Linked DNA regions of Homo sapiens. The protein of the gene in region 1 purifies or fractionates together with the protein of each later gene. This does not show direct contact. Each region holds a gene or a part of one and is shown on either strand. Other genes may lie near its edges.

Region 1 (4,506 bases):
GGAGTCTCCGCCTTACCTGGTCAAATAGCTGCTTCCCGGTGGTGTTGGGCTGGATGGCAAACTCCAGCTCTGCATCCATGGTGGTCACACGCACACTGATCTAGGATGAGATCAAAGGAAGCAGGTTAGTCATCTGGCTCTGTGTTCAACAGAGCCTGAGACAAGTGTCTCTGCTCAACCACAGAGGAAGGAGTTAGGATGCTAAGAGCCTGGGCAACTTAGATACTGATGGGGATGAAGGGAGAATATTGACCCAAACACAACCCCTGCTCCCAAGCAGCTTATTGAAGACAAACAACACAGCCACAGAGCAATACTTACCAAAGAACAGACAAGCATGAAGGCCGGGTGCAATGCCTCATGCCTGTAATCCCAGCACTTTGGGAGGCCGAGGTGGGTGGATTGCTTGAGGCCAGGAGTTCGAGACCAGCCTGGGTAACATGGCAAAACCCCATCTCTACTAAAAATACAAAAATTATCCGGGCATGGTGGTGCACACCTGTAGTTCAAGCTACTTGGGAGGCTGGGGTATGAGAATCACTGGAACCCAGAAGGTAGAGGTTGCAGTGAGCCGAGATCACACCACTGCACTCCAACCTGGGCAACAGAGCGAGACTTTGTCTCAAAAAAATTTTTAAAAAAGAATGCAGATCAGCCTACAACTAAGAGCAGGCAAATGATAACTGTACTTCTTCCAGGAAGGCCTTTCCATCTATACTAGACAGCTTCATCTCACAGGGTTCTCTTCTCACCTCTGATCTACCTGGATTATCTATAGCACTGGTAAACAATTGCAGAGGCAAATTAATATCAGGACAAAGAGCACTGGGTTCCACATGATAATCTAAAGGGCAGAAAAAGCTTTCAATAAAATCTAACACCCCTTCATGTTAAAAGTTCTCAATAAACTAGGTATTGAAGGAGCATACCTCAAAATAATAAGAGCCATCTGATAAAGCCACAACCAACATCATACTGAATGCGCCAAAGCTGGAAGCATTCCCTTTTAAAACCGACACAAGACAAGAATGCCCTCTCTCACCACTCATATTCAACATAGTATTAGAAGTCCTGGCCAGAGCAATCAGACCAGAGAAAGAAATAGAGGGCAACCAAGCAAGAGGAGAGGAAGTCAAACTATCCTTGTTTGCAGATGACATGATCCTATATCTAGAAAATCCAATAGTCTCGGCCCAAAAGCTCCTTAATCTGATAAATAACTTCAGCAAAGTCTCAGTGTACAAAAATCAACATACAAAAGTCACTAGCATTCGTATACACCAACAACAGTCAAGCCAAGAGCCAAATCAGGAAGGCAATCCCATTCAGAACTGCCACAAAAGAATAAATATCTAGGAATACTGTTAACTAGGGAAGCGAAAGATCTCTACAAGAAGAACTACAAATCACTGCTCAAAGAAATCAGATATGACACAAACAAATGGAGAAACAGTCCATGCTCATGAATAGGAAGAATCAATATTGTTAAAATGGTGATACTGCCCAAAGCAATTCATAGAATAGACTCAATGCTATTCCTATCAAACTACCAATGACATTCTTCACAGAACTAGGAAAAACTATTTTAAAATTCATATGGAAACAAAAAAACAGCCTGAATAACCATGGCAATCCTAAGCAAAAAGAACAAAGCTGGAGGCATCATGCTACCCAACTTCAAATGATACTAGAGGGCTCCAGTAACCAAAACAGCATTGTACTGGTACAAAAACAGACACAGAGACCAATGGAGCAGAATAGAGAGCCCAGAAATAAGGCCACACACCTACAACCATCTGATCTTTGACAAAGTCGACAAAAACAAGCAATGGAAAAAGGACTCCCAATTCAATAAACAGTGCTGGGATAACTGGTTAGCCATATGTAGAAGATTGAAACTGGACCCCATCCTTATCTCACATATAAAAATCAACTCTATATGTATTAAAGACTTAAATGTAAAAGTAATGTAAAACTCAAAATTATAAAAACCCTCAAAGAAAACCTACGTAATACCATTCTGAACATAGGAATGGACAAAGATTTCATAACAAAGACGCCAAAAGCAATTGCAACAAAAGCAAAAATTGACAAATGAGATCTAACTAAACTAAAGAGCTTCTGCACAGCAAAAGAAACTATCGAGTTAACAGGCAACCTACGGAACCAGAGAAAATATTTGCAAACTATGCAACTTACAAAGGTCTAATATCCAGCATCTATAAGGAACTTTAACAAATTTACAAGAAAAAAAACAACCCCATTAAAATGTGAGCAAAGGATATGAAGAGACACTTTTCAAAAGAAGACATACATGTGGCCAAGAAGCATATATAAAAAATTTACATCATTAGAGAAATGCAAATCAAAACCACAATGAGATACCATCTCACACAAGTCAGAATAGCTATTATTAAAAAATCAAAAAAAAATAATAACAGATGCTAGTGAGATTGCAAAGAAAAGGGAACCTTTATACACTGTTGGTGGGAGTGTAAATTAGTTCAACCATGGTAGAAAACAGTGTGGCAATTTCTCAAAGACCTGAAAACAAAACTACCATTCAACCCAGCAATATCATTATGGGGTATATATCCAAAGGAATATAAATCATTCTATCATAAAAATACATAAACGCGCATGTGCATTGAAGCACTATTCACAATAGCAATGACATGGAATCAACCTAAATGCCAGTCAATGGTAGACTGGATAAAGAAAATGTATGTTAGTATGCAGCCATAAAAAACAACAAGATCATGTCCTTTGCAGGAACATGAATGGAGTGGAGGTCATTATCCTTAGCAAACTAATGCAGGAACAGAAAATCAAATGCCAGACTGGGCATGGTAGCTCACACCTGTAATCCCAGCACTTTGGGAGGCCAAGATGGACGCATCCCTTGAGGCCAGGAGTTCAAGACCAGCCTGGACAATATAGCGAAACCCCATCTCTACTAAAAACACAAAAATTAGCCAGGCAAGGTGGTGCACACCTGTAATCCCAGCTACTTTGGTGGCTGAGGCACGAGAATCGCTTTAACCCGGGAGGCAGAGGTTGTAGAATACCACATGTTCTCACTTATAAGTGGGAATTAAATGATGAGAACACACAGACACATAGAAGGTGGAGGGTGGGAGGAGGGAGATGATCAGGAAAAAATATTTTAATAACTAATGGGTACTAGGCTTAATACCTGGGTGATAAAATGATCTGTACAATGAACCCCCATGACATGAGTTTACCTTATGACAAACCTGCACATGTACCCCTGAACTTAAAATAAAAATTAAAAACAAAGAAGAACACTGGATTCCAAGCCTAGCATGTAGCTGGTCAAATCTACAACCTTGGATAACTCCTGTCCTTTTCCTGGGCCTTAGTTTCCCTTACCTGTGCAAAGGCAGGAATGGGATGGAGGGCAGCCAATTAAACTAGATAAATGGTCCAAAGACCATTTCAGTGCTGATGTCGGTGGTTCTATATACTGCCTTGCATTGCTAATGCTTCCTATATTTATGTCTCATTGGCTTCCTTAGGCTCAAGAGGGGAAGGGGGCCTCAGTAGAGGTGGGTATGGGTGGCATAGAGGGGCTACCAAAGCCAACTCAGTGGGAGGACAAAGGTGCAGAAACAGGCCCAGACCAAAATAAGAGACAGCCACACACATGATTTCACGGGCACTAGAAAAAATACCACCTTTACAAATAGATCCTCGAAGCTAGGTCAATGATAGCTGAAATTTCATAATTAGAGATTTAGTCCTTTGGCTGAAAACTCAGTAGTAATGGTAGCAGTAGTAATAGTAACAGGCAGCAGCTTTCCTGTATCAAGACTTGCTACTCACCAGGCACTTCATATGTACTACCTCATTTAATATCAATAATCACCCTGTGAAGTAGAGTATTATCTCCACATTGGAGATAAAGAAATAGGTATTTGTCTAAAGTCACATTGCTATTAAGCAGGGGAGACAGGGTTTGAATCCAGGTCTAAATCCAAACCTCACAATGTAAACCAATATGCTAAATTCCTCTTACAGAGTACAAAAGTCTCCCATTAAAAGAAAAAAAAGATTGATTTTTAGTTGTTAGATATTTTGCTTAAATAATGTATATAGTACAGCCACAAAATGGCTTCTTATATGGTCATACAAAATCTTTATGAAGACTATTTCATGCTCACGGAAGACACTTTAGTAATATTGAGGAAATGTAAACAGTATTTCATAGAGTCCGTGAGCTCAACTTTGTAAAATGTATACATAGAAGGATGATTGGAATCTTGTCCAAGTATTAGTCAGGCTTGGTTTTGGGGTGGTGATCTTATGGGTGCTTTCTCCTTTCTTTAAACTAAAAAAAAAAAAAAAAAATCTAATCTACATTTTCTAAGTTGGTCACATACTGCTTATAGTATTGAGGGAAAGCACTAGATATAGTATTGCCAAAGATGCAAATTTCCATGGAGTGAGTAAGACATTAAACCTTATCAGTCTTTGAACCTCTAG
Region 2 (5,016 bases), on another chromosome or scaffold:
CCCTCTGGAATTCTTGGGGGGTGTTGGGGAGAGACTGTGGGCCTGGAGATAAAACTTGTCTCCTCTACCACCACCCTGTACCCTAGCCTGCACCTGTCCTCATCTCTGCAAAGTTCAGCTTCCTTCCCCAGGTCTCTGTGCACTCTGTCTTGGATGCTCTGGGGAGCTCATGGGTGGAGGAGTCTCCACCAGAGGGAGGCTCAGGGGACTGGTTGGGCCAGGGATGAATATTTGAGGGATAAAAATTGTGTAAGAGCCAAAGAATTGGTAGTAGGGGGAGAACAGAGAGGAGCTGGGCTATGGGAAATGATTTGAATAATGGAGCTGGGAATATGGCTGGATATCTGGTACTAAAAAAGGGTCTTTAAGAACCTACTTCCTAATCTCTTCCCCAATCCAAACCATAGCTGTCTGTCCAGTGCTCTCTTCCTGCCTCCAGCTCTGCCCCAGGCTCCTCCTAGACTCTGTCCCTGGGCTAGGGCAGGGGAGGAGGGAGAGCAGGGTTGGGGGAGAGGCTGAGGAGAGTGTGACATGTGGGGAGAGGACCAGCTGGGTGCTTGGGCATTGACAGAATGATGGTTGTTTTGTATCATTTGATTAATAAAAAAAAATGAAAAAAGTGAAACATGTTGTCTTGACTGGACACCCCCTCCCTGAGGGTCCACGGGTGAGAGGAGCTTGGGGGTGAAAGGCAAAGTCATTGGTAGGGTGGGGCACGTGGGGCTGGAGTGGTTGGCTGTGGAAGTGAATGGGGACTCACTTTTCCCTATGGGTTTGGGTTGAGGGTGGTACCAGGTCCAAAAGGGCAACATGGTCCTCTCTGAGGGACAGGCTCCTCTTTGCCAATGGGCGGGCCCTCTTATAGGAGAGGAGGGTATGTGTGCACACTTGGGGAAAAGGATATTAGTCCAGGTGTTCTGAGCCCTGGCTGGCACAACCAGGGAAATGGGGTGGGTGGGGGTGGGGGGCGGTTAGAAACAGGCTGACTGGCCTGAGTTTGAATCTCAGATCTGCCACTTATCATTGGAATTTTGGGCATGCTCTTAGTATCAGTTTCCTCATCTGTAAAATGGGGGATATGAATATTACTTCCACAGGATTGCCAGGAGGACAATGCCACACATCATGTAAAGCACTTACAGAGAGCCTGACACATGGTGAGTGCCCAGTGACCCAATATCATTCCCGCTGGAGTGGGCAAGTGGGCCCCTCTTTGGTTTCAGCTGCTGCCCTAGTGTAGGGAGGTCGAGCTGGCCAGTTTCCTTGGGTATCTTAGGGAAACGGTGGGGTGTGGGGAGTTTCCAGAGGAGTCTTCTGGTGTACATGAGGGATCTTAGGGCTGGGTCTCAGTAGAGCTGATGGGTCAGACTAGAGACAGAAGACCAGGGAGCCAGACAGGTCCCTGGCATCTGCCTTCTGATTTGAGCACAGAAGTCGGGCGTTACTCCTGAAACCCCAGTGGCAAGGAGGTTTCTGTGGCCAGTTAGGCTGGCCTGGAATGTTAACTGAACTTGTCTGTTGGGAGCCCCTGAAACTGGGATCCCAGTGACCCAGGTGAGAAAGGCAGGTGATAGTCCTTCCCTTCCTTTCTCTACCCTGTCAGGTTCTGCTCAGCCCCTGCGGGGCTGGGAGGGTGGGGTTGGGGGAGTGCCAGTTTTCACCACTCCCTCTGGGATGGGGGTAGAGGGGTGTGAAAAAAGGTGTGTATCCCTTTAACAAGGGCCCAACCCCAGGGCCAAGTCAAGAAGGAGCTCAGCCACTATCTCCCCACCGAGCCAGCTCAGCGGGCAGGGCTGGGAGGGAGTGGGACAGATTCTGGGAGTGCAGCGGGGAGGAGTCCCGGCTGGGCTGAGCGCAGGGAGCTGCTTGGCAGTGCCAGAGCCCAGGCCCCAGAGCCCTGCTGGAGAGGAGGCAGACTGAGGCAGCAGGTGAGCACCCTGGGCCCGGCCTGGGAGGTCTTCGGCTGCCGGAGGGCCCCACAGTATTGGGAGGCCAGGAGAAGGGGCAGTGAAGGGGGCCTGGGGAGAGGGGCCTGCCAGAGAGCAGGCAGGAAGATTTTGGTAATTATTAACTTTCTCCCACAGGCCAGTTTAGGAATGGGGAGTCCTGGGGGGTTGGGGGCTGGGTGAGGCCTTTAGAGGGATGGATGGGATGGTGAGACCCCCTCCCTGCCGCAGCAGCTGACGGAGCTCCTCTCCAGGGGCAGAGTATTTGGAAGCTTTGACCACAGCTACTCGATCCTCCCCAAAAGGAGAGGACAAATGCGTGTTGGTCTGGGTTGGGGGTGGTCAGAGCTTGGACACAGGCCTTGCTGGGCTCTGGGAGCTGTGTCCTAGGGGAGGTGATGGGGTCCAGAAGGAACCAGGCAGTTTCCAGGGAGCCTGAGATTCCGAGAAGAGGAGGCGGGGGCTGAGGTGGCGTCCCCTCTACCTCACGACCCAAGCAGACCCCACTGTGTTCCAGGAGCTGTTCCTTGAGAGGGATGATGAGATCTGGGAGGAACCCGAGTGAGGCTGTGGGGAGCCTGCAAGCTCCCTGGGAGAGGGAAAGATAGAGAGAGGGGGGCTGAACCTCGGCAGCTCCTCCACCTCAGGACCCAGGCAGGCCCCGGCTTGAGCTGCTTTTCTTGGCAGAGCCACCTGCACTATGGGAGCCTTCCCCTGCCCAGCCCAGTGGGGATGGTGGTGAGGGCAGGGGTGCTGGGGAGCTGGCTCTGCCTTTCCCCACATTCTAGTAAGTGTTGTTGAGGCTGGGGTAGCTGTGTGTGTGTTGGGGGAGGCGGGGGCAAGATCCACACTGAACTCCTCCAACTTCACTTGCCTGGAAAAATTTCAGAGGCTGGCTTCTTGCTCCAAGAACTGAAGTGAGTGGAAGGGTGATGGGTCACCCAAGCAGAGGGGATCAGGAATGGCCGAGGTCCTTGCTCGGTGTGTGTGTGTGTGTGTGTGTGTGTGTGTGTGTGAGAGAGAGACAAAGAGAGTTAGACGCAGAATCCTGTGAGGATGGTAAGGGGTGAGGCAGGGCCAAGCAGGCCCCACTATGCTCCGGGAGCTGTTCCTGGAGAGGGCCTTGTGGAATTGGAGAAAGAACACAGGAAGGAGCAGAGAATGGAACAGCTGAGGCTGGAGAAATTTCATTTGAAACAGCCTTGCTGATAGAGGTGGCATTGTCAGCCCAGTTCGGATGGCACCTTCCCTATATATTGAAGTTAGAGAGGACAAATGAGTAAATGAAAAAGGGAATGAATGAATGAATGTGCAAGAGAGTGAATGCATTATTGAATGAGCAAGTGAATGAATGAGAGTGAATGAATGAGCCAATAAATGAATGAGTAAGCAAACTCATGGTGCCTAAGTGAGCAAATGAATTCCAGGTAGATGGAAGGGACACAGAGAATCCATACTTAGGCTTGACAGTGGGCTAGGCTCTGGAGAGAACAGTGACCAGGAGGGACAGGAGTCTAGGGACACATCCCAACACTTGGAAAAAACTTAAGACTCCAGAGGTGTCTGTGGGGTGAGAAGAGAAGGTGGACTTAGGACGGTGTGGTGGATGTTTGGAGCTCCAGACGGAAGGAGCCTGGGGATGCTAGGGGTGGTTAGGAGGCATTTGGAGGGCGTGGAGCCCAGAACCTGGGGGTGGGAGGGTGGGGCTGGAGTGGCTGGGATCCAGGGGCATGGAGTCAGGGCAATTTGGGCTTTTGGAGAAGTCAGCAAGCTGGGCTGAGGTGGGTGGGGTGGGGGTGGGAGACTGCTTGTTGCTCAATGATGAATCAGCCAAGGGGAAGACAATGAGAACATTGGGGTAGGGCTGGAGGCCTGAGGTGAGAGGGCCCATTGGAGGACACGTGGTCCTCCCATTCCCACATTTCTGGAAGGCTCCTGTGTACACTGTCCACTCAGGCCAGGATCTACCTGTGGCAGGGCCAATGCAGGAACGACCTCCTGCTTGACCTTTCTAGGAAGCGGCTGATGGGATAGAACATCTGCCCGACCCCTGAACCAGGAGACCCGGGGCCTGGCTGGTGGGGGAATGGGGCAGGCGGGAGGAGCAGGTGGCTTGTGGGGTGGGTGGGGTGGCAGATCCTGTCTCCTGGCCTCCAGGGGAGGGAGGCAGAGGAGGATAACGATCCCTGCCTGCCTGCTACCCTATCCTTCCTTCAGAAAAAGCTCCAGAAAAGCACTTGTCAGATGGTTATCTCCAGCACTGTCCATTTTACCGAAGGTGGGGAGCGGGTGGATTCCTGGGAGGAGGGGCTGGGAGCTGAAGCCCTGAGGCACTGGAGCTCCCGCTCTGGGTCTCCCAGTACTCCTGGGAGCAGGTGGCAGAGTCATCTCTGGGGCTCATCTGTGTCTTGGCCACTTGGCTGCTGCCAGAGGCCAAGCAGGGGTTGAGTCATGGTATTGAGGAAGGCCAGGAGGAGACAGCTCAGAGAAATGACTCCAAGGAGGCAGGTGGTGGGAGAGGTGGGCTAGCTTGTGGGGAGAGTGGCAGAGGGAGGTGCACCACCCATTTCCTTCCCTCTTCCTCTCCCTGACCGTTTCCCACAAGATCCCTCATTTAGGGAACAAGGATTGGGATGGTTAAGTGTGGGGAGTTTCTCTGAATTATCTTCCCACTTCCAAGTCTTGGTTGGGAGTGGACTTGGCACAGTCCTTCCAGAAATGGGCACGGTTTTCAGAATCACCTGGAACACTGGTCATGAACCTGAGCCACCTCCAACCCAAGGGCAGCACAGCAGACAGACCACAGGTTGAACAATGGTCTTCCTCTTCAACTGTAAATGTTAAAGTGTTTGTATGAAAGTCTTGCAGCGGTATAGACAGGGAACCACGCAGTTACACACTTAAATAAAAGAATATGGAAAAGCGTGTGGCTTCCTGCCATCCTGGTACTCTGCTCCATCCTCCCAGCCAAGGACCAGAGGGTTTGGGCAGGCGGAGGAGGGAAGACAAGGGCAGGATTTCCCTTCAGAGAAGCCGCAGCCTGACTCTTCCTCTCAACTCTCCTTCCTTC
Region 3 (3,383 bases), on another chromosome or scaffold:
CATCCCTGGAGCATCTGTGCCGGGCAGTCAGGAGTGAGTGCACCGCCTCCCACCCAGCCCCATTGGGCCTCACACCCTCTTCATTCCTTTCCCCATGAGGCAGGCAAACACGGTCATGACCATTTTGGGGTTCACTTCAACCAGGTCTTCTGGCAGGGCATACACTCTTGCTCCAATTTTTCGGGCCATAGAGATGGCATATCTAAAAGGGAGAAAAGAGGAAAAATAAGGAGAGCCTGAGAAACACAACACGAATGGGACCCTGGAGGGTCACAGTCACAGTCGTTCCATAGTCAGGACAGAACTCACTCCTGCAGTGGCTGGAGTCAGTCACCAGCATCCTCACACTTTTGTGGACAAATTTTGGCTCAACCAAAGATTCTGACAAAGCATCAGACTTGCTGGCTAGTCTCGTGATCATTATCAAGTGTATTATTTGTCCTTGGAGACCTCTTCAGCTCCTGCCTTTTTTTTAAGTTAAGTTTTTTTTTTTTTTTTTGTAGAGACAGGGGTCTCACTATGTTGCCCAGGCTGGGCTTGAACTCCTGGCCTCAAGAGAAGCTCTTGCCTCAGCCTCCCAAAGCACTGGGATTACAGGTGTGAGCCACTACAGCACGTGCTGCCACTTTTGATACTCACACCAGGAGTATTCTCTTGGGCTACATAGCAGCATAGCAGAAAGAGTCACAGAACTGAATAAACATGTGTGCTAGGAAAAGTTTGCAGACTACATTTCAACTACAGTAACATTTTGACAAGGAACAAAAGAGGAAAAATGTATAATATCCTGACCTTGGCCAGGCGCGGTGGCTCACGCCTGTAATCCCAACACTTCGGGTGGCCGAGGCGGGTGGATCACAAGGTCAGGAGATCGAGACCATCCTGGCCAACATGGTGAAACCCCATCTCTACTAAAAATACAAAAAATTAGCCAGGCGTGGTGGCGTGCGCCTGTAGTCCCAGCTACTCAGGAGGCTGAGGCAGGAGAATCGCTTGAACCCGGGAGGCGGAGGCTGCAGTGAGCCAAGATCGTGCCACTGTAGTCCAGCCTGGGCAACAAAGTGAGACTCCGTCTCAGAAAAAAAAAAAATCCTAGCCTTACACATCAATTTTTTTATTCTTTGTTCCATTCCAATTCTTGCCCACATATATTTGTACTTATTTATGGTACTATAATATAGAGTAGCCAGAGATTTATATTCCATATTTTCACATAGAATGATAATAGCTGCATCAGAACATTTTTGCTCTATTTGTAGATATATGAAGATAAATTTCATTAATTGTAATTTATTTTCAAATGAGCCCACACTACTACCTGGCAGTTCTTTTATTCACCTCGTTTATTATCTAGTGACCTCTTACTATGGTTACACCAGACACTCTTCACTCTACCCAAGCCCACATTTACTACCTCCTGCTCTCCTAAAATTACTTTACTTTTACTTTATTGATCAAATTAAATTAAGAGCATCAGGCATGAGTGGTCCCATTTTTTCTCCTTGTCTCTCTCTCAATAACTTCTTCCATATTAATTATTAACAAAGTAAAATTAATTTTTCCCCATTATAAAACACAGAGGGAAAACGGTCTGAAAATTAAAAGGGAGCTTCAAACAAAATCACACACAATCTTGCCACCATGACATAACCATTCTTCGCATTTTGTGTAATTTCTTTCACCCCTTTTTCTAAGTAATTTTGTATCTCGCCCTCACAGGAGAGTGCTTAGGGGTCTGGGCTCTGAAGTTGGACTTTGAATCTCAGCTGCACAACTGAAAAACTGTATGGCCTTGGCAAGTTTCTTAAACCTAATCACACTCCCCTTGAACATCTGGGCTGAAGGCTTTTTACAATTTCTGGGTCTTCATATGTGTTTTTCCTTCTGCCTGGAACATTCTTCCTCTCTCCTTCACCTGTCTACTTCCTTCTTACTTGTCTTTTCAGTTGAGCTCAGCTGAGCTGCTATTTGCTCTAAAGAGCTCTAGTCCCCTTCCTATCCCTTCAGGGATGCCTCATACTGTCCCTTCCACACCTCTCATCACAATCTATTGTAATTTTAGTTTAATTATTTATTTCTCTCCATTAAATTGTGTTAAACTTTGGCATCCCGAGAGCACAGGTTCCCACTTTCCCAAACTGGGAACAGAGAGAAGGGCTCTGTTGGGATTATAAAGCAGGGATGCCGGGCACTAGATACTTGTATCTTCTAGACCTGTGGTATGAGCTGAATTGTGTCTCTTCGAAATTCATATGCTGAAGTCTTAACCCCCAGCACCTCAGAGTATGACCCTAGTTGGAAAGAGGGTTGCTGCAGATGTAAGTAGTTAAGACGAGGTCATGCTGGAGTTGGGTGGGACCTTAATCCAGTAGGACTGGTGTCTTTCTAAGAAAAGAAGTGTCGCAGAGAAACACAAAGCGGGAAGACAGCCGTGTGAAGTCACAGACACGCAAGAAGAATGCCATGTGAAGATGGAGGCAGAGATTGGCATGGGGCAGATTCTCCCTCAGAAGAAACCAATCCTGCCAACATCTTGATTGCAAACCTCTAGCTCCTATAACTGTGAGAGAAGAAACTTCTGCTGCCCAGTTTGTGCAGTACTTCGTTGTGGCAGCCCAAGGAAACTAACGGAATCTGATCTGAGAAAAGCACCTGTCTGGAGCAGATGTTCATTAACTTTTTTTGCAAAAGACTGGATGGTAAACATCTTAGGCTTTGTTGCAACTATGCAACTCTGCTGTTATAGCAGGGAAGCAGCTATAGACAAGATGCAAATGAATAGGCTCTGTTTCAATAAAACTTTGTTTAGAAAAGCAGACAACAGGGCAGATCTGGCTCAGAAACTGTAATATGCTGATACTCACTCTAGAGGAATCATTTGGCAGGTGACCTGAATGGTAAAACACAAGACAGTGGCTTTCACACTGGCAAAGGCTCTGCTGTGGAACCCTACCCCTGTGCATTCTTATCCATGAATATTCATGAATGGAGCATTTGGTTAGGAAATTGGTTTTATGAAACTATAGGCTTGCTTATCAATTACAAGAATACTCTCATTATTGGGTTGTTTTTTTTTTTTTGTCTTGCTCCCATTCTGGCACTAGAAGTTTTAAACTACTATTGTCCCATATCCAAAACAGTGATGATGAGACTGCAGAAAGTCATGAGAAGGAAAAGCACGGATAGTGAAAATGAAATGTTTGTATAAAGGCATGAGCATTAGACTTTACAACCATCCAGCTGCCAGTTGGGTCCTTCCCTCCCAATCTGAGGTTTATTTTTATTTACGTACTTTGCATTGTTGAGTTTCTCATCATCATTCAGATTTTCTGTCTTCAGAAGGTCATAGTTAATGGAACCTGGTTGGATGGCATCGATGAGGT
Region 4 (4,506 bases), on another chromosome or scaffold:
TGGATCTCTCTGAATCTCTTCTGGTTCTGAGGGCTGCCCAATTTGTGAACTATTCTTTGTTCAATTAAACTGTTAAATTTAATGTGTTGATAATTTCTCTTTTAACCTATATATTTGATGTTCCTCCTGTTTCCTATCACATAGCTCTTAAAACCTTTGGGTTCTCCACAGTGATAAGAGTGTCTTTCGTTTACTAATAAGATGACTGGTGACACCCAGACAGCTTTGGGATGGGGGCCAGTCACCAGAAAGACTAAGGCATGTTTAGAGGGTTGGGACTTTAAGCCCAACCCCACAACCTTTAAGGAGGGGAGAGCAGCTAAAATTGATTTGATAACCAGTAGCCAATGATGTGAGCAATCACGCCTACATAAGTAAGCCTCCATAAAACCCCAAAAGGACAGGGTCCAGAGAACTTCCAATTAGCTGAACATGTGGAGGTGTCTGGAAGATGGCATGCTGGCGAGAGCATGAAAACTTCATACCCCTTTCCACGTACCTTGCCCTATGCAACTCTTCCTCTGGCTGTTTATTTTGTAATATCCTTTATAATAAATGGGAAAATGTAAGTAGTATTTCTCTGAGTTCTGTGACCCACTCAAGCAAATTAATTGAACCCAAGGAGGGGGCAGTGGGAGTCCCAATTTATAGCTTGGTGGTCAGAAGTATAGGTGGCAATCTACTACTTGTAATGGGCATCTGAAGTTGGTGGCACTCTTGTGGGACTGAGTCCTTAACCTGTGGGATCTGATGCTATCTTCAGGCAGACAGTGTCAGAATTGAACTGAATAAGAGGACATGCAGCTGGTGTCCACTGAAGAAGTATCTGGTGTATGGGGCAACAACCCTTACATGTCTGATGTCACAAGTATTGTACTGTGTGGTACGGCAGTAGGAAGAACATTTTGAGTTTTTCATATCTCTATTAAAAGATAATATAACTTCACAAGCATATGGGTACATATAAGCTGTGATTATACAGAAACTTCCTGCAAACTCCCAGCTTTCTAACAGCTGGCCATAAAGAAATTAAGACTCTCATTCCATAGGGGTCCTACCCAATACCCAGGAGGAAGGAATGCTGCACAGAGAGGCCAAGAGAAATCTGGAGAGGTAGGTGTTGCTGAGTTTCCTCACTCAGTCTATTAGCGTTAGATCATACCCATTTTGTCCAATCCTATTTCTATACAGCTGTCCACACTTCACTAATCCTAAGCATAAAAACGGATAATTTTTTCTGCATTTTTTGGGTCTTCATTCTGAAGGCTCCCATGACACATAAAGCTTTGATCGAATAAATTTGCTATGCTTTTCTCTAGTCAACCTGTCTTTGTTACAGGGGTGTTGGCCATGACCTTTATGATGGGCCAGAAAGGAATTACTCCCTTTCCTCCCCTACAGAACTTATACAGTATATAAAGGAGAGATTACACTAATATAATCTATTAATATATTCAATTTTTGGAATTCCTCTTTGGATTCTGCTTTCAAACTAATTCTTAAGTCTCACAAGAAAATCGGGTCCATCGCTTCAGGTACACTTTGTTTTTATTTTCCCAGTTTGATCACTAACCTTACTCAGTAAATTTGACTCCATATGAATTTTGTCTACTTCCAAAAATTTAATGAAAAGATGATGATTGAAGTTAATTCTAAAGAATATCATACTAGTGGCTAACATTTACTGAGGGCTTACCACGCACCAAATATTGTGATATTTCGTCAGGCACGGTATGTATACTTGCAGTCCCAGTTACTCCAGAGGATGAGGCAGGAGGATTGCTTGATCCCAGGAGCTCCAGGCTACAATGTGCTATGATCAACCTTGTGACTGGCCACTGCACTGCAGCCTGGGAAACACAGGGAGCCCCTGTCTCTAAAAAACAGACAGACAAATATATGTTGTGATAAGCTCTTTATGTGTATCATCATATTGAAAGAATTGAATACAACAACTCTATGAGATAAGTGTTATTTCCCATTTTACAGATGAAGATCTTAAATAATTTGTCCAAAATTCCTTAACTAATTGGTTTAGCCAAAACTTGAAATGTGATTTAATTCAAAACCCATGTTTTTAATGACCATGTCATATAGCTATCTGAGTTTCCTGGAGTCTAGATTATGTTTCCTTTGTTCTCTATGGCCTAGCATGATGCCATGGGCGGCAGGTGCCTGTAATCCCAGCTACTTGGGAGGTTGAGGAACAAAAATCACTTGAACTGGGGAGGTGGAGGTTGCGATGAGCCAAGATCGTGCCCCTGCGCTCCACCCTGGGCAACAGAGTGAGACTTCATCTCAAAAAAACAAAACAAAAAAAATCCTGAAGGAAACCCAGAAAATTTTATACAAAGAAAGGATCTCTGATATCATGATCCGGTCTCTCAAGGTGAGTAGTTTGAAAGGAATAAAAACCCCGTCTTTTTTTGTTTTTAAAAAGTTGATTATTATTTCACATACATTACAATATAGCCAAATGCCCCATTCCAATAGCCTCATTCACTACAGGTTAAGCACTCCAAATCTGAAAATCTGAAATATTTAAATATAAATGTAAAAAATATAAACAAGTATAAAGCAAATATTCCAAAATCCGAAAAAATCCAAAATCCAAGACACTTTTGATAGCAAGCATTTTGGACAAGAGATAATCAACCTGTACTTTATTTTTATTTTTTTGGAGGCAGCGTTTCACTATGTTGTCCAGGCTGATCTCGAACTCCTGAGCTCAAGCAATCCTCCCACCTCTACCTCCCAAAGTGTTAGGATTACAGGCATGAGCTACCACACCTGGCCTTCAACCTGTACTTCAAACTGTGAACTTAAATGTATCTGTACTTTTTCCTTCATTTTCTCATATTAAACTATACATATGGATCAGAAAAACTCCCCCAAGTTACATAACTGCTATTTATGCCATTTCCACAAGGCTTTTTGGTCTAAATTTCAAGCGTGGTAAACAATTTTTGTGCCTTATAACACAATTTTGCCATGGAAAAAAGTCTTTTAGTAATTTTAATATTATGAAATACATACTTAGTCTTAGTCCCTTTTGCTATCGTAAGTGTCTTTTTGTATACTAATGAGTTGACTGATGGCTAGCCACCTCTAGGCAGCTTCAGGATCGTGGCTGGTCACTAGAAAGAGGGAGGGGAGAGGGGCTAAAGGTTGAGTTGATCACCAATGGCCAATGATGTAATCAATCAGGCCTACATAATGAAGCCTCCATAAAAAGTTAAAAGACTGGGTTTGGGGAGCCTCCAGAAAGCTGGACACAGGGAGGGTCCTGGAGGGGAATCCACCCAGAGAGGGTGTGGAAGCTCTACGCCCCTTCCCACCTGCCTTACGCTATGCATCTTTTCACCTATATCCTTTGTAATATCTTTTATAATAAACCAGTAAATGTAAGTAAGTGCTCCCTGAATTCTGTGAGCTGCTCTAGCAAATTAATCAAACCCAAGGAGGGAGTTGTGGGAACTCTGATTTATAGCTGGTCAGTCAGAAGCACAGGTAAAACTGAGGCTTACAGTTGGCATCAGAACTTGGGGGCAGTCTTGTAAGCCAGCCTTCAACCTTAGGGATGTGACGCTGTCTCCAGGTAGACAGTGTCAGAATTGAACTGAACTAGAGGACAGTCCTGTGGTGCCCACCACTGCAGAACTAACTGCTTGCTTAATGTGTGGGGGAAAATCCTACGGAATCATGTTGTGAGCGTATAGTGGGAGAAATTGAGTTTAATCTGTAGTCTCAGTAATACTATTTTTTTCTTTTTTTGAGACAGAGTCCTGCTCTGTTGCCCAGGCTGGAGTGCGGTGGTGTGATCTCGGCTCACTATAACCTCCGCCTCCCAGGTTCAAGTGATTGTCCCGCCCCAACCTACTGAGTAACTGGGATTACAGGTGCACAGCACCACGCCCGGCTAATTTTTTTTATTTTTAGTAGAGATGAGGTTTTGCCATGCTGGCCAGGCTGGTCTCAAACTTCTGACCTCAGGTGATCCACCCACCTCGGCCTCCCAAAGTGCTGGGATTACAGCCACCATGCCCAGCCCTCAGTAATACTATTGATGCTGCTAAGCTGCACTGGCATTCTCCTTCTAAATAAGGATAATACTCTAAAATTTGAGAAAAGCTAAGAGGCATGTGCTTAGGTAAAATCTTATTCCTAATTAAATGGATTAAAAGATGACATTTATTATAGTATGTATAGTACGTAGTTGGCGTTTTTTTCCCCCCTGAGGCAAGGTCTTTCTCTGTCACCCAGGCTGGAGTGTAGTGGCATGCTCATGGCTCACAGCAACCTTGCCTTCCTGGGCTCAAGTGATCCTCCTACCTCAGCCTCCTGAGTAGCTGGGACTACAGGCGCATATAACCACGCTTGGCTAATTTTTTATTTTTTGTAGAGATGGGGGGTCTCACTATAGTTCCCAGGTTGGTCTTGAACTCCTGGGCTCAAGTGATCCTCCTGCCTCAGCCTCCCAAAGTGCTGGGATTACAGGTGTGAGCC
Region 5 (4,506 bases), on another chromosome or scaffold:
ATTCCCCTAAAAATCATTTACGACATCCCTAAAATCATCCGCACCTCCCCATCTCCCTTCCCCTAAGAGGAAGGGAATATAACCCTCTGTATCCCAATGCGTGGTAGGGAAATCTCTTGTGATTCTCCCCTGTCCACATTCATACATTTGTATGCCATTTCTTGTATTAGTCTTCCTTTTGCCAGTTGATTTTCAGCGGACCTTCAGAGGGTGGAGGGAGGTTTTCCTTTGGCCCCTACGTGGACGAGGGCTGCATTACGTTGTACACAGGAGCAGTGGGTTCCCTTGGGCACTGTGGGAGCCTCCCTTCAGCAAGAGCAGATGGGGTGAGGCTAGGGAAGGCAGCCTGGACTTACGTCGATGGAGCAGCCAAGGAGAGAGCCTTTTTGCAGAGCTTTCTGGATGATCTTGAACAGGTTGGGAGGGGGCTTCTTCAACTCATACCACTCAGCAATGCCTCCGGTGAAGTCTTCGAAGCCCTCAGTGGTGGCACCCCCTGATAGCGCTTCATAGCATCCGTTGATCCTACAAGAGGGGATTAGACGCTGCCGCTACCCTTGACACTACTGATGCTATAATCTCTCAAACAGCCACCCCCTAGTACCGTCTAGATTTGATGCTCCAGGGACCCCCTGCTCACATTCTCCTTGGCCTTGTTCCCAGCTCGGGGTGCTCAGGAAGGCAAGGTATAATGTCCACAGTTACCATTTCCCTGGTATTTTGTGTTTTAAAGAAAATCTCAGGCCGGGCGCGGTAGCTCATGCCTGTAATCCCAGCACTCTGGGAGGCCGAGGTGGGCGGATCACTTGAGGTCAGGAGTTCAAGACCAGCCTGGCCAACATGGCAAAACACCATCTCTACTAAAAATACAAAAAAATTAGCTGGGCATGGTGGTGCATGCCTGTAGTCCCAGCTACTTGGGAGGCTGAGGCAAAAGAATTGCTGAAACTCAGAACGTGGAAATTGCAGTGAGCTGAGATCATGCCGCTCACTCCAGCCTGGGTGACAGAATGAGGCTCCGTATTAAAAAAAAAAAAAAAAAAAAAGATTCTCGTAGAACCTTAGAGTCGGAAGGACCTTAGTGATTTTCTGGATGAACCTCCTGTATTGATTCCTTCTACATCCTGACAAGAAAGGGGAGGTCTACTAATGGGTCGTTTGGCATTGATAGCTTAAAAAAGGACAACCATTCAATAATGGAAGCAGTTTCTCTGAGAAACAGGCACGGTGTTGGCAAGGGCTTAGTGCTCCTGACTGCTGATGCTGGAGTCCGGTGGCTTCCCTGACCCCAGTATTGAGCAGTGGGACTTAGAAGCATCCGTCAGGCTCCAGGTTCTCACAGCTGACTCCTCCTTCCTGGATTGGGACTGTAAGAAACAGAAATCCACTTGCTGCTCTAAAGTGGGGTCACTTTAATGGAAGGAGCCGGGCGGCACAGCCAACATGGGGCCATTGTGGAGAGGGGCTGGTGTGGGGCTTCTTACTGAGAGTGGGCAGCCCTGAGCACTGGACAAACTCAACTGTGGGCAACCTGGGTGGGAAGCAGCTGTGCGGAGATGGGGAAGCCATTGCTAATCAGTGACATCATCTATTCTGGGCAAGTTTCCTACCTCTGCAATGAATAGTTCTGCCCATTGGCAAAAATTCTGCTTTTTTAAGTTGATACAAATGTGTCCTGTCAAGGAAGTAGAGCTCCTTCTCAAGTCCAGCACAATCAGTACCATAACTTGTTCCTGTGCATTTGGTTAAAGATGGTGATAGACATCATTTATCAGCGTACAGTGCAGCCAGGCACCCTGCATGCACTATCTCCTTGCATTTAGAGCCTAATTTTGGCCAAAGAAGTCCTTCTATAGAAAAGGACTTCCCACTCAAAGTAGTCCTGGAGTAGTTCTACTGATTTTTATATTTTTAGTAGAGACGGGGTTTCATCATGTTGGCCAGGCTGGTCTCGAACTCCTGACCTCAAATGATCCACCCACCTCGGCCTCCCAAAGTGCTGAGATTACAGGCATGAGTGAATTTTTTGGAATCCAGGGCATTGGGGGAAGGCCATGGGGCCAGGGGAGGATGGCAACTTACTTGGCGTATGCCTTCTCCAGCAGGGCGCTCCAGAACTCGCTCCCTTCGGCTGAATGCACAAAGAGCAGCTCCCCGTCCTTGGTGGGCAGCCTGTCATCCACCACCACCTCCACCCACTCGCCGTATTGCCAGAACTGCAGAACAAGAGAGGTGGGCTGCAGGAGGAGCTGGTGGCAGCACTGGGACTCTGAGCCTCAGCTGCCTCTGGCTCCCCTTGCCCTGATCCCCTGGGATAGGTTCCATGAGCGCATCCTGGGAGGAGGTGCTCCCTTAACTCTCCTATGCAGGCCAAGTCCTCACTAAAAAAGCGAAGACAGAGGCGCATGTCCATCCTTTCAAATCCACACCCGCCTCTTTAGCATTCTGCCCTGTACCTTAGGCTGTTTTTTTTTTTTTTTGAGACCAAGTCTTGCTCTGCCCAGGCTGGAGTGCAGTGGCACGATCTCGGCTCACTGCAACCTCTGCCTCCTGGATGCAAGTGATTCTCTTGCCTCAGCCTCCCGAGTAGCTGGGATTAAGGGCACGTGCCACCACACCCGGCTAATTTTTTTTGTGTTTTTAGTAGAGACGGAGTTTCAGCATGTTGCCCCAGCTGGTCTCGAACTCCTGGGCTCAAGTGATCCACCCACCTTGGCCTCCCAACCTCTGCCTCCCAGGTTAAAGTGATTCTCCTGCCTCAGCCTCCCAAGTAGCTGGGATTACAGGCCTGCACTACTACGCCCAACTGATTTTTGTACTTTTAGTAGAGATGGGGTTTCATCATGTTGGCCAGGCTGGTCTCGAACTCCTGACCTCAAATGATCTGCCCACCTCGGCCTCCCAAAGTGCTGAGATTACGGGCATGAGCTACCGTGCCCAGCCAGCTTTTTCAAGTATTATTTCTCATTTACCGGCATAAAAGGAGGAGAACTTCAACGTTTTTGTCTCAAACATCAAATAATACAGTTTTTTTTTTTAAACTTGGGAATTAGTTCCTGAACACCTTGCTCTACCTCCCTTTTACATGTCCCAAGAAACCACCCAGGGCCATCCCAGCCGGGTCTCACATCCTGGCCACGGGTAAGCCAGGAAGCTTCCTGCTCTCGCCCAATGTCCTTTGTAGAACAGTATTGGTCTTGGGAGTCTGCAAACACCAGGGACTGATGAACCCAGCCAAGCCAGAAGACTGTTCCTAGCCCCCTGGACCTGTTGAGGAACCACCTGAGCCAACCATTAAGTTACCTGGAAGTGAAAGATCCCTGCATAGTTTTCCTGGAAGCTCTGGTTTAGGGGGACGACTCGAGCCAGGATTTCTTCATTCAAGGTGAGGGAGGCAATGGCTGCCAGCAGCCAGCAGTCACCTGTGAACACAGCACAAGGAGCTCTTATCAGAGGGTCTTAGAACCAGGAGGATGTTAAAAATCTTGTCTCCACCTCCAGGGGCTTAAAGCCTAAGACAACCTGTGAATAGACAGAGTGAAGTTTCAGGCAGTCCCCCATATGAGGGTTGGGTCAGAGGGTTTGGGGGCTATTAGGTTGGTGTAAAAGTAATTGTGATTTTTGCACCAACCTAGTATTTTGAGGGAAATGCAAAGGGAGAAATGTTTTTGCTGTGTTGTGGTTGGGCAGAGATGGGAAATTTCATTCCCTGAAAGACCCAGAACTCTGGTGGCTGAACTGTGCCCTCAGAGCCCAGCCTTGCACCTGATTCGCAGCAGATGCTCCACAGTGAGAGAATGAAACCAGCGCAGCTGCAGAGGCTTCTGAGCACACAGGCTTTGAATGGGAGTTTGGGCTGGGTGTGGTGGCGTACACCTGGAGTCCCAGCTATAATACGAATACTTGGGAGGCTGCGGCAGGAGGATCCCTTGAGCCCAGGATTTCAAGGCTGCAGTGAGCCATGATTGCACCACTGCACTCCAGCCTGGGCAACAGAGGGAGACCCTCATCTCTAAATAAATAAACAAACAAATATATAAAGGGGAGTTTGAGTGAGAGAAAGAAAACGTAGTGCTAGATGGGAAGGGGACAAACGTTGCACGCCTCCTAGGAGGAAGGTCAGAGCCAGGAAAAGAGGCTCTGGCAGGGAGTACAGTCGCAGGAAGTAAGTACGGAGCAGTGCAGATGGAAAAGCCCTGAGTCAGAGGCAGAAGGCTGGACTGTCCCGAAGGGTTTCTGTGCGGAGGGGCAGAGGTCACTTCAAGGGGTAGACAAGGATGGGCACAACGAGGTGGGCAGCTGGCCAGGCAGCCTGGTCCCTCTCTGAGCCTCAGAACCCTCCCCCATGACATGGATAAGTGTGAGGCATAATGAGAGCAGGTGTGTAAGCACTCGGCACCCATTTGGTGCCAGTGCTAGGTTCTCAGCACAGCAGGCACCACAATCATTTCATGCAGTTAGAAGCAAGCTGATGCCAGCAACAGCACCCAGATGGTTTGCAGGGAG
Region 6 (4,506 bases), on another chromosome or scaffold:
ATTAATAATAATGCACAAACAAGCAAATATACCTGGTTAACATTTTCTAGGTGAGAATCAAAACTACTTTTGCTAATACTAAATAGAAATTATTGCTATTTACACGAGACAATGAGATGCTCCATAAATGTTTCTTCTTTAATCATTAACGTAACAAAAAAGCAGCCCATTTTACTTACTGTTTTGTCATTCACAATGAACACTAACTTGTTAAGGAGTGTTGGCATTTTAAAGATACTATTAATATAGTCTAGTACATTAAAAACAATAATGTATAATAGAGCTCTCTGGAAAGAACAAGAAAATATCAAGTCGTTCAGTGCCTATAATGCATATGTAAAGTATAGTGATTCGCAACTGGTTGGGGGGAGGTTTTCACCAGTTAAATAGGGGCAACAATATATGCTCATAGGACTATTGTGAAGACTAGATGAGATAATACTGTAAAAAAGTTTAAAACAGTCCTGGTGCCAATAAGCACCGAAGTGATAGCTACACCAGGGTGGCCCTTAGCAGAAGAAGCATATTACCCAAACAAGATAAAAAAGCCTGTAATCCCAGAGAGCTGTGCTGTTCTTCCCAAACAAAAATAAACAAAACTACTCCAGAAAGAGTCCCCAAAAAACAACAAATAAAACTATGATTTCAAATTTGGTAAAGAGAACTGAGATAGGCTCAACTAGTGACCAGAGAAGTAAGAACTTTCAGGTTTCTTCTTCTTTATAATAGATTAATAAACAAAGCAATATTCTATGTCTTCCACGAACTGAAACAAATCATAGCCTGGGTTCACCTTGTCAGCATACTCAATACAAATTAAAAGCAATTAGCATAATGAGGAAGTTCAAATTCCAACAGAAGGGACACACCTTTGCTTTTCCTTTGGGAACATAGTAGATACCAGATGCTCGCAAGAGAAAATAACGCTTTTTCCAGGACTTCTTGCCATCATCCTTCAACCAAAGGACTCCTTCAATTTCTGGTACAGTTACAGAACTTCCACAAAAACATTCCTAAAATAACAAGATTATTTGCAAAGACTTATGATCGTTGGATTCTCAGAACAAAGTTGTGTTTACTCCTGTGAAATGCATGACAGTTATTAAACCAAAATGGTTTTATATTAAAACCAAGCTGCTAATTTAACCTCAATTAGAACTTTCCAGCCAGGTGTAGTGGCTCATGCCTGTAATCCCAGCACTTTGGGAAGCGGGTGGATCACTTGAGGTCAGGAGTTCAAGACCAGCCTGGCCAACATAGTGAAACCACGTCTCTACTTAAAAAAAAAAAAAAAAGCCAGGCATGGTGGCGCGAGCCTGTAGTCCCAGTTATGTGGGCAGCTGAGGCACAAAAATTGCTTGAACCTGGGAGGCGGAGATTGCAGTGAGCTGAGATCACACCACTGCACTCCAGCCTGGGCAACAGAGCGAGACTCTGTCTCAAAACAAAAACAAAAACAAAAACAAAAACAAAAACAAGACAAAACACTTTCTATTCTAAACACAATATGAATTTGGAACTACTATGGCAATCCTAAAATGTTTATTAAATAAAAATGCCAGTCATACATGTAATACTGAATTTTTACCTACAAACTTTTAACTAAAACACTGTTTCGGAGAAAAACTAAGTTGACACATGAACTGAGTTGCATGTAACAGTAGTTAAATACCTTTGCAAACAGCACAGTTACACTAAATTTAATAAAACTGTCAGGGCAAACCAAGCGTTAGACTTTATTTTTTCTCTACATTTAGATTAGCTGTCAAACTAAACAGGAATATATTTTAAAAGAATGCAACGTGCTAAGTGTATGATTAAACTTTAAGAATTTAAAAACTATCCATTTATGTGACTCTAAGACAAAGAGGGCATTTATTTAAAAAATAATACTAGGTTGAAAGGACTATAAACACTCAAAATTCTAAGTTCTAAACACTATGCTTTGATAAAAATCTAATATTAAAGAAATCAATCATGTATTTGTGAAAGAAAAGAGAAATCCTCAGAAAACACTAATATAGGACATTTGGGCCTAAATTAATTTTTCTCCTCAAAGTACAGAAAAATTAGGAATTACAAGGCAGATTTTTACTTAACCGTAGTTAGTATCACTATGAAAACTGAATGTTGATCTTCGCTTCCTAATTGCCTTGCTGGTAAGTAAGGGTTTATTCAGGTTTTCAAGTATACTAAGTTATTTGATTTTAGTTCTATAAAATCAGCCAAAAATTCAATTATATTTTTCCAAAAAATGATCATGATTTTAAAAATTATTTAATTATTTAAGGATAAGGCTGGAAATAATTTGTGAACAGCTAATTATATTCAAATTTCTCTCTGAGTAAGCAGATAAAAACAGCAAAACCACATCCTTCATTGACCAGCCACCTCTCCCACTTGGCAGCCCCTAAAAGCTCATTATTCTTAGATCACTAGAATATGGCTTGGCAAAATAATAAAGGGTCTTCAGTGGCCTAACACGTTCACACAGTTGAACTCTCTCCCTCATACTATCAAAGAATACACAGGCTTCTTTAATTAAAATTGTAACTACAAATATAGAACACTGACATACTTGACTTCAAAAAGGTATTTAATATTTTATTTTATTTATTTATTTATTTATTTATTTTATTGAGACAGAGTCTCACCCTGTTGCTAGGCTGGAATGCAGTGGTGCAATCTCGGCTCGCTGCAACCTCCGCATCCCGGGTTCAAGCAATTCCCTGCCTCAGCCTCCCGAGTAGCTGGGATTACAGGCGCCCACCACCACGCCTGGCTAATTTTTTTATTTTTTAACAGACAGGGTTTCACCATCTTGGGCAGGCTGGTCTTGAACTCCTGATCTTGTGATTCACTCACCTCAGCCTCCCGAAGTGTTGGGATTGCAGGCGTGAGCCACCATGCCTGGCCTAATATTTTAATTTTTAAATGTGCAGGAAAATGGGGGTTGTCATACCTCCAAGAGGACTTCTTTGTTTCTATCTGCCATCTCAGCTGTTTCTTTTTTCCCCAAAAGATAATTCTGGAAAAACAAACATATGGAAGGGATGGGTGGGAGAGAAAAAAAGAAGGTTAAAGCATAAATCCATTCTGTTATTCCCTTGGCACAGGTGTGTGTATGTTTTCTTCTAGAGAAATAGCAACTCTGATTTCTGTTGGTATAGAGTAGAATAAACTTTGAAAAGTTACCTGTGTATGGGCATCATCACTAAAATGCTTAACACCAGTCTCCTCCTTGCCTGTCCACTTGTCATAAACTGTCCTTACCCAGACTGTGAGGTGGTATTACATTCAACAGCTGGCAAATATGTTTTGGGATATCTAATGAAAGCTACGTTAGAGGATCTGAAAGGTTTAGAAATTCATAAGTACAACAAGTAAGGCAAATTTCCTTAAAATATACTGATCTAGGTGCAGAAAATTTATGTTCTGGCTTTTTAAGAAGAAATCCCATATTCTCTGGGACTCATTTATTAATAATCTCATTTACTTGACTCAACTAAAAATCTGAATTCTGGCTGGGTGCAGTGGCTCACACCTGTAATCCCAGCACTCTGGGAGGCCAAGGCGGGTGGATCACGAGGTCAGAAGTTCAAGACCAGCCTGACCAACACGGTGAAACCCCGTCTCTACTAAAAATACAAAATTAGCCAGGTGTGGCAGCACGCACCTGTAGTCCCAGCTATGCAGGAGGCTGAGGTAGGAGAATCGCTTGGAGGCGGAGGTTGCAGTGAGCCAAGATCACGCCACTGACTCCAGCCTGGGCAACAGAGCGAGACTCCATCTCAAAAAAAAACAAAAAACAAACAAACAAAAAAATCAAACTGAAGTCTACTCATTAGTACACAGTCATCCCTTGTTGTCCATAGGAGATTGATTCTAGGATCTCCCCTGTATACCAAAATCTGCTGATGCTTAAAGTCACTTATAAAAATGGGGTCACATTTGCATATAACCTATGCACATTCTCCCTTGTACTTTAAATAATCTCTAGATTACTTACAATACCTAATACAATGCCTACCTATCATTTAATTTGCATGAATTCAATGCAGTACTCAAGCGTGGCATATTCAAGTTTTGTTTTTTAGAACCTGGAATTATTTTTCTGAATATTTTAGATCTGCAGTTGTGCAAATCCACAGATGCAGAACCCATGGATATAGAGGGCTGACTGTACTTCTTTTTCTTTTTCTCTTTTTTTTTTTGGAGACGGAGTCTCACTGTCACCCAGGCTGGAGTGCAGTGGCACAATCTCGGCTCAGTGCAAGCTCCGACTCCCGGATTCACACCATTCTCCTGCCTCAGCCTCCCAAGTAGCTGGGACTACAGGCGCCCGACACCACGCCCGGCTAATTTTTTGTATTTTTAGTAGAGACAGGGTTTCACCGTGTTAGCCAGGATGGTCTCGATCTCCTGACCCTGTGATCCATCCACCTCAGACTCCCAAAGTGCTGGGCTAATTTTTTGTATTTTTAGTAGAGACGGGGTTTCACCGTG
Region 7 (4,506 bases), on another chromosome or scaffold:
CAGTTATTAGATTAAAACTGAAAGTGAGGATGGTCTCCCAAAGGAAAGCAACCTAATAGAAAACTAACTCTGTGATGCATATCTATCTACTTTCAAATGCTATGTGACAGTGCTCATTCTACATAGCAAAATATCTTTATTATTTCTGTCAATGTTGAAAAATAAAACATTGTACCCTTCAGTCAGTAGATAACCCAATGAAAAAATACATCTATTCTGCAGCATCTTCCAAAGCAAATCCTACAACGTCTTATGATCAAAATGCTACCCATCAAGGCAAAATATTTTTAGAAATTGCTATGTGTGGCACAACTTTCCACACAAATCTCTTGAATACAATCAGGAAGTTGCACCAACAGTGCTCACTGAGAAGAATATTTTTACAAAATTGACCTGCATTTTCTTCAAAAGGAAGGCTTTGGAAGGACCAAAAAAGACATTCTCAGATCCCCAATTAGAAATAATCAACTGGGATTCTACCAAATCCATTTTTCAGGACAAAAGATGTCTACCGAGAGAGCCAAAGAACCTGACTATGGCCCTGCTGTTACTGAAACAGTAACTCATACTCAGACATTAAGTTACAATTTTCTAAAAGACAAAGTTGGTTTGATTTTTGTTTTTTAATTAAACAAATATCTGAGAATGAAAATAAAGAGGGTGAAGGACACCTCGGGAAATCATAAACTTTATAGGGATCCAATGTGCCGTTTATTAGCCCATCAAAGACTTGGCTTGTGCCAGGTCAGTAGGGCACAGATAGTTTTTAAAAATTAAAAGCAGTAGAGATGAGAAGAGATGAGAAATCCCCCCATGCTATGTTCTTCTGGTAGCAAGATAATGCAGTTCAAGTTGGGTCTTGCAGTACTTGGTACTTTTATGCAAAAATGATGCTTTGTAGAATGAGGCACCAACTGTTATTCAATTAAAAATGTATGAAATCAGGCATTTAATGAAATTTTAGAGGTAGTAATTCCATGGTTAGCTTTCAGAAGATGTATTAATAGTTCAATATAACTTTACTCATAACTGAGCCAGAAAAGAAAAGAATTAGCCTTTATAAAGAATGTCATTACCCACACTAGACCCCTGAGAGGTGGTACCTTACCCAAGCCTTTCCTTGCTCTCTTCTGGTGTCAGCTGATCAAAGGTCTTTGCTTCTTCAGCACCCAAGAAGGCATCATGGTCATAATCAAAACTCTGAGCATCATTGTGAACCTTGTCACTGAGCTGAGGCTCATGATGTACACGGTCCTTCTTTTCTGTGGGTTTGCTCAAGGCAAAGGCTGTGCACAGGGACAGGCACATAAGAAACTGTCGCAGGTCCATGATAATTAGATCTTGAAGAAAATGAAAAGCAGTTAATTCAGGAGGCAGTATGCTTAATAACTAAATAAGAAATTAAAAGCTCACATCCGAGTTAAACTATTAATTTGATATACATATCTATGCAAGTCTTTTATATTATCCCAAATATTACTTCATCCATAAAATAAGTATGGTGGAATATCAGACTCTTCAATTATTACAGTGAGAAATTTTTACCAGTTTCCTTCATCTGATTGTAGGCTGATAAGAAACTTATAGTTAAAATGTCCACTTTCTGTTTTCTTTCAAAAGATACCAAAGTAGAATTTTAATCCTTTTGCCCAAGTTCATAAGAATTAAAAGTGAAAGAACCAAGGTTTAAATGTTGACTCCAAATCCTTTACTTCTTGTACGCATTGGTGGTCTGGTCTTCAAACATGGCTGGTTATTAGAATCATCTAGGAAGCTTTAAGTTTCTCCTATTGATTTAGAGTCTCTGAAGCTGAATTCAGACATTCGTAGCTTTAAATGTTTTTCAGGTGATTCTGATGTTCATGAGATTAGGAACCAGCGAAATACTTGGCAGCTTCCTTGGTCTATAGCACCAAGTCTCCAACATCCAGGCTCAACCTTGAGTCACCTTCAAAGGCCAAATCATTCAGATGGTCTAGTCATAGATAAGAACGTCTTTATCCTTCTGCACAGTTGTTTCCCATACTTGCCTAGGCATAAATACCACCTGTAGTACTGTTCAAAGTACAGATTCCCAGGCCCTGATTCAAACTTTCAGAATCTCTGTAGTCACAGGTGACTCTAATGAACAAGCACAAAGCTGGAACACTTGACTGAAAAATGTGACAAAAAACCTGCAAAGAAGCTGCAGAGTACACATCTGTTTAGCACACTCTACTGATACCCCGTGATACTATCCAGAGTGGTTAAGGTCTTAGAGGGAAAAAAAAAAATTAAAAATCAAGAAGAAGGGTTTTCAGGCTTTTACATTTTTTCTTTCATCACTGGGAAGGCAGCTCAGTGGGGGAGGGTGGGAGGTCCTGAAATGGCAGAGGAGGACATATCAGTAGAGAGTGGAAAGTGTTCTAGAGTAAATACGACAACACAGTAAGACAAACAGAAAAGTACCTAAGGAGATAATGGGGGCGGGGGTTGGGGGGCAGTCATTCCCAAGTGCCCCAGTCTCAAATAAGGTACTGTTACTGATGACGTGAAGGTTAAGACTTAGGAAAATCCATCAGAAGAAGCAATGTGAAAGCAAGACCATGAAACCCATAGAGAAATGGGTAGAAGATGGTACTTATTACTCTATTCCTATCAATGTTAGAACTTGGCTATGTTTCTCAACATTGTTTCATTCAATCCCATCAAAATACCCACATTTACAGACAAAGATACTTGTATTAAGATGTTCAATGATGACAGTTCACAATGATTAAAAAATCGGAAAACAAATAAAAACAGAGAATTGGTAAAATATATTAAATCTCGATTATGGAAAAATACACAAAGGTTAAAAAGAATGGGCCGGGCGCAGTGGCTCATGCTTGTAATCCCAGCACACTGGGAGGCCGAGGCGGGTGGATCACAAGGTCAGGAGATCGAGATCATCCTGGCTAACACGGTAAAACCCCGTCTCTACTACAAATACAAAAAATTAGCCGGGCGTGGTGGTGGGTGCCTGTAGTCCCAGCTACTTGGGAGGCTGTGGCAGGAGAATGGCGTGAACCCAGGAGGCAGAGCTTGCAGTGAGCCGAGATAGCACCTCTACACTCCAGCCTGGGCTACAGAGTGAGACTCCGTCTCAAAAAAAAAAAAAAAAAAAAAAAAGAATGACATGAGGCCGGGGGTGGTGGTTCACGCCTGTAATCCCAAGACTTTGGGAGGCTAATGCAGGCGGATCACTTGCATCCGGGAGTTTAAGACAAGCCTGGGTGATAGCGAAACACTGTCTCTACTAAAAATACAAAAATTAGCTGGGCATGGTGGCATACACCTGTAGTCTCAGCTACTCAGGAGGCTGAGGTGGGAGGATAGCTTGAACCCACCAGGTGGAGGTTGCAGTTAGCTGAGATTGTACCACTGCACTCCAGCGTGGGTGACAGAGATCCTATCTCAAAAAAAATAAAAAAAGCAGCCAGGCATGGTGGCTCATGCCTGTAATCCCAGCACTTTGGGAGGCCGAGGCGGGAGGATCACTTGAGGTCAGGAGTTCGAGACCACCCTGGGAAATACGGTGAAACCCTGTCTCTACTAAAAATACAAAACTTAGCTGGGTGTGGTGGCACACGCCTGTAGTCCCAGCTACTCAGGAGGCTGAGGCACGAGAAGTACTGGAACCCGGGAGGCAGAGGCTGCAGTGAGCTGAGATCTCACCACTGCACTTCAGTGACAGAGCGAGACCCTTCCTCAAAAAAAAGAATGTAAAAAAAAAAAAAGAACGAGATGCATCTATCTGCAGTGAAATGGAAAATTCACCAAGATATGTCAAGTGAACAAAAAAAGCAAGGTTCAAAACAACGTCAAGATCTCATTTACATAAAAAGCAAAACAAAATTAAACAATCTCCCCAGCTTGTTTTTATTTGTATAAAATATAACATGCACATAAATGGTGTGCAAAGACAAATACCCATGTGTAAACAGTGGTAACCTCAAGGTTCATGGGAGAAGAGACAGGAATGGGGTGGGCTGGTAAGATTGGTGTGAAAGTGAACTTTAATACTGTATCCTGCTGTACTGTCTAATTTGTATGAACAGCACACTCTCATGTTTATTAGCTTTCTGTGTGCACCACTTGTAAAATATTGCTCTGGGTGAACAACACTCTGGCTGACCCTCCAATAATTCAACTGATCAATCAAATCAGTTAAAGAGTAAACAGAAAATCCGAGATTTAGCGGCTCTATAAATACAACATTAAAGTGAGTATGCCTTTACTTCAGGGCAAAATGAAACTTCTATCTCAAACTATAAACAATTCTTTTTTTGAGACAGGGTCTTACTCTGTCACCCAGGCTAGATATAGTGGTGTGATGATAGCTCACTGCAGTCTGGTCCTCTGGGGCTCAGACCATCCTCCCACTTCAGCCTCCCAAGTAGCTGGGAATACAAGTGTGTACCACCATGCACAGCAAATTAAAAAAAAAAAAATGTTGTAGAGTCTCACTATGTTGCCCAGACTGGT

Evidence for each region.
Region 2: the proteins of MSN (region 1) and S100A16 fractionate together in Homo sapiens (co-fractionation; one large-scale study listed by BioGRID). This does not show direct contact.
Region 3: the proteins of MSN (region 1) and LCP1 fractionate together in Homo sapiens (co-fractionation; one large-scale study listed by BioGRID). This does not show direct contact.
Region 4: the proteins of MSN (region 1) and CNTRL purify together in Homo sapiens (affinity purification with mass spectrometry; one large-scale study listed by BioGRID and IntAct). This does not show direct contact.
Region 5: the proteins of MSN (region 1) and CAPN2 fractionate together in Homo sapiens (co-fractionation; one large-scale study listed by BioGRID). This does not show direct contact.
Region 6: the proteins of MSN (region 1) and RAPH1 fractionate together in Homo sapiens (co-fractionation; one large-scale study listed by BioGRID). This does not show direct contact.
Region 7: the proteins of MSN (region 1) and CALU fractionate together in Homo sapiens (co-fractionation; one large-scale study listed by BioGRID). This does not show direct contact.

Annotation. Positions count from the first base shown.
Region 1 is NC_000023.11:65,712,412-65,716,917, reverse strand, and holds part of MSN (moesin), read right to left. Parts: intron 101-4,506; coding exon 17-100; intron 1-16. UniProt on the Homo sapiens protein: Ezrin-radixin-moesin (ERM) family protein that connects the actin cytoskeleton to the plasma membrane and thereby regulates the structure and function of specific domains of the cell cortex.
Region 2 is NC_000001.11:153,609,864-153,614,879, reverse strand, and holds the start of S100A16 (protein S100-A16), read left to right. Parts: upstream 1-1,742; 5' UTR 1,743-1,928; intron 1,929-5,016. UniProt on the Homo sapiens protein: Calcium-binding protein. Binds one calcium ion per monomer. Can promote differentiation of adipocytes (in vitro). Overexpression in preadipocytes increases their proliferation, enhances adipogenesis and reduces insulin-stimulated glucose uptake.
Region 3 is NC_000013.11:46,127,522-46,130,904, forward strand, and holds part of LCP1 (plastin-2), read right to left. Parts: coding exon 3,293-3,383; intron 203-3,292; coding exon 70-202; 3' UTR 1-69.
Region 4 is NC_000009.12:121,077,676-121,082,181, reverse strand, and holds part of CNTRL (centriolin), read right to left. Parts: intron 1,877-4,506; 5' UTR 1,704-1,876; intron 1-1,703. UniProt on the Homo sapiens protein: Involved in cell cycle progression and cytokinesis. During the late steps of cytokinesis, anchors exocyst and SNARE complexes at the midbody, thereby allowing secretory vesicle-mediated abscission.
Region 5 is NC_000001.11:223,743,016-223,747,521, reverse strand, and holds part of CAPN2 (calpain-2 catalytic subunit), read right to left. Parts: intron 3,423-4,506; coding exon 3,304-3,422; intron 2,217-3,303; coding exon 2,083-2,216; intron 526-2,082; coding exon 357-525; intron 1-356. UniProt on the Homo sapiens protein: Calcium-regulated non-lysosomal thiol-protease which catalyzes limited proteolysis of substrates involved in cytoskeletal remodeling and signal transduction. Proteolytically cleaves MYOC at 'Arg-226'.
Region 6 is NC_000002.12:203,454,568-203,459,073, forward strand, and holds part of RAPH1 (ras-associated and pleckstrin homology domains-containing protein 1), read right to left. Parts: intron 3,029-4,506; coding exon 2,963-3,028; intron 1,014-2,962; coding exon 870-1,013; intron 1-869. UniProt on the Homo sapiens protein: Mediator of localized membrane signals. Implicated in the regulation of lamellipodial dynamics. Negatively regulates cell adhesion.
Region 7 is NC_000007.14:128,745,407-128,749,912, reverse strand, and holds part of CALU (calumenin isoform a precursor), read right to left. Parts: intron 2,361-4,506; exon of another isoform or gene 1,559-2,360; coding exon of another isoform or gene 1,546-1,558; intron 1,341-1,545; coding exon of another isoform or gene 1,330-1,340; coding exon 1,109-1,329; intron 1-1,108. UniProt on the Homo sapiens protein: Involved in regulation of vitamin K-dependent carboxylation of multiple N-terminal glutamate residues. Seems to inhibit gamma-carboxylase GGCX. Binds 7 calcium ions with a low affinity.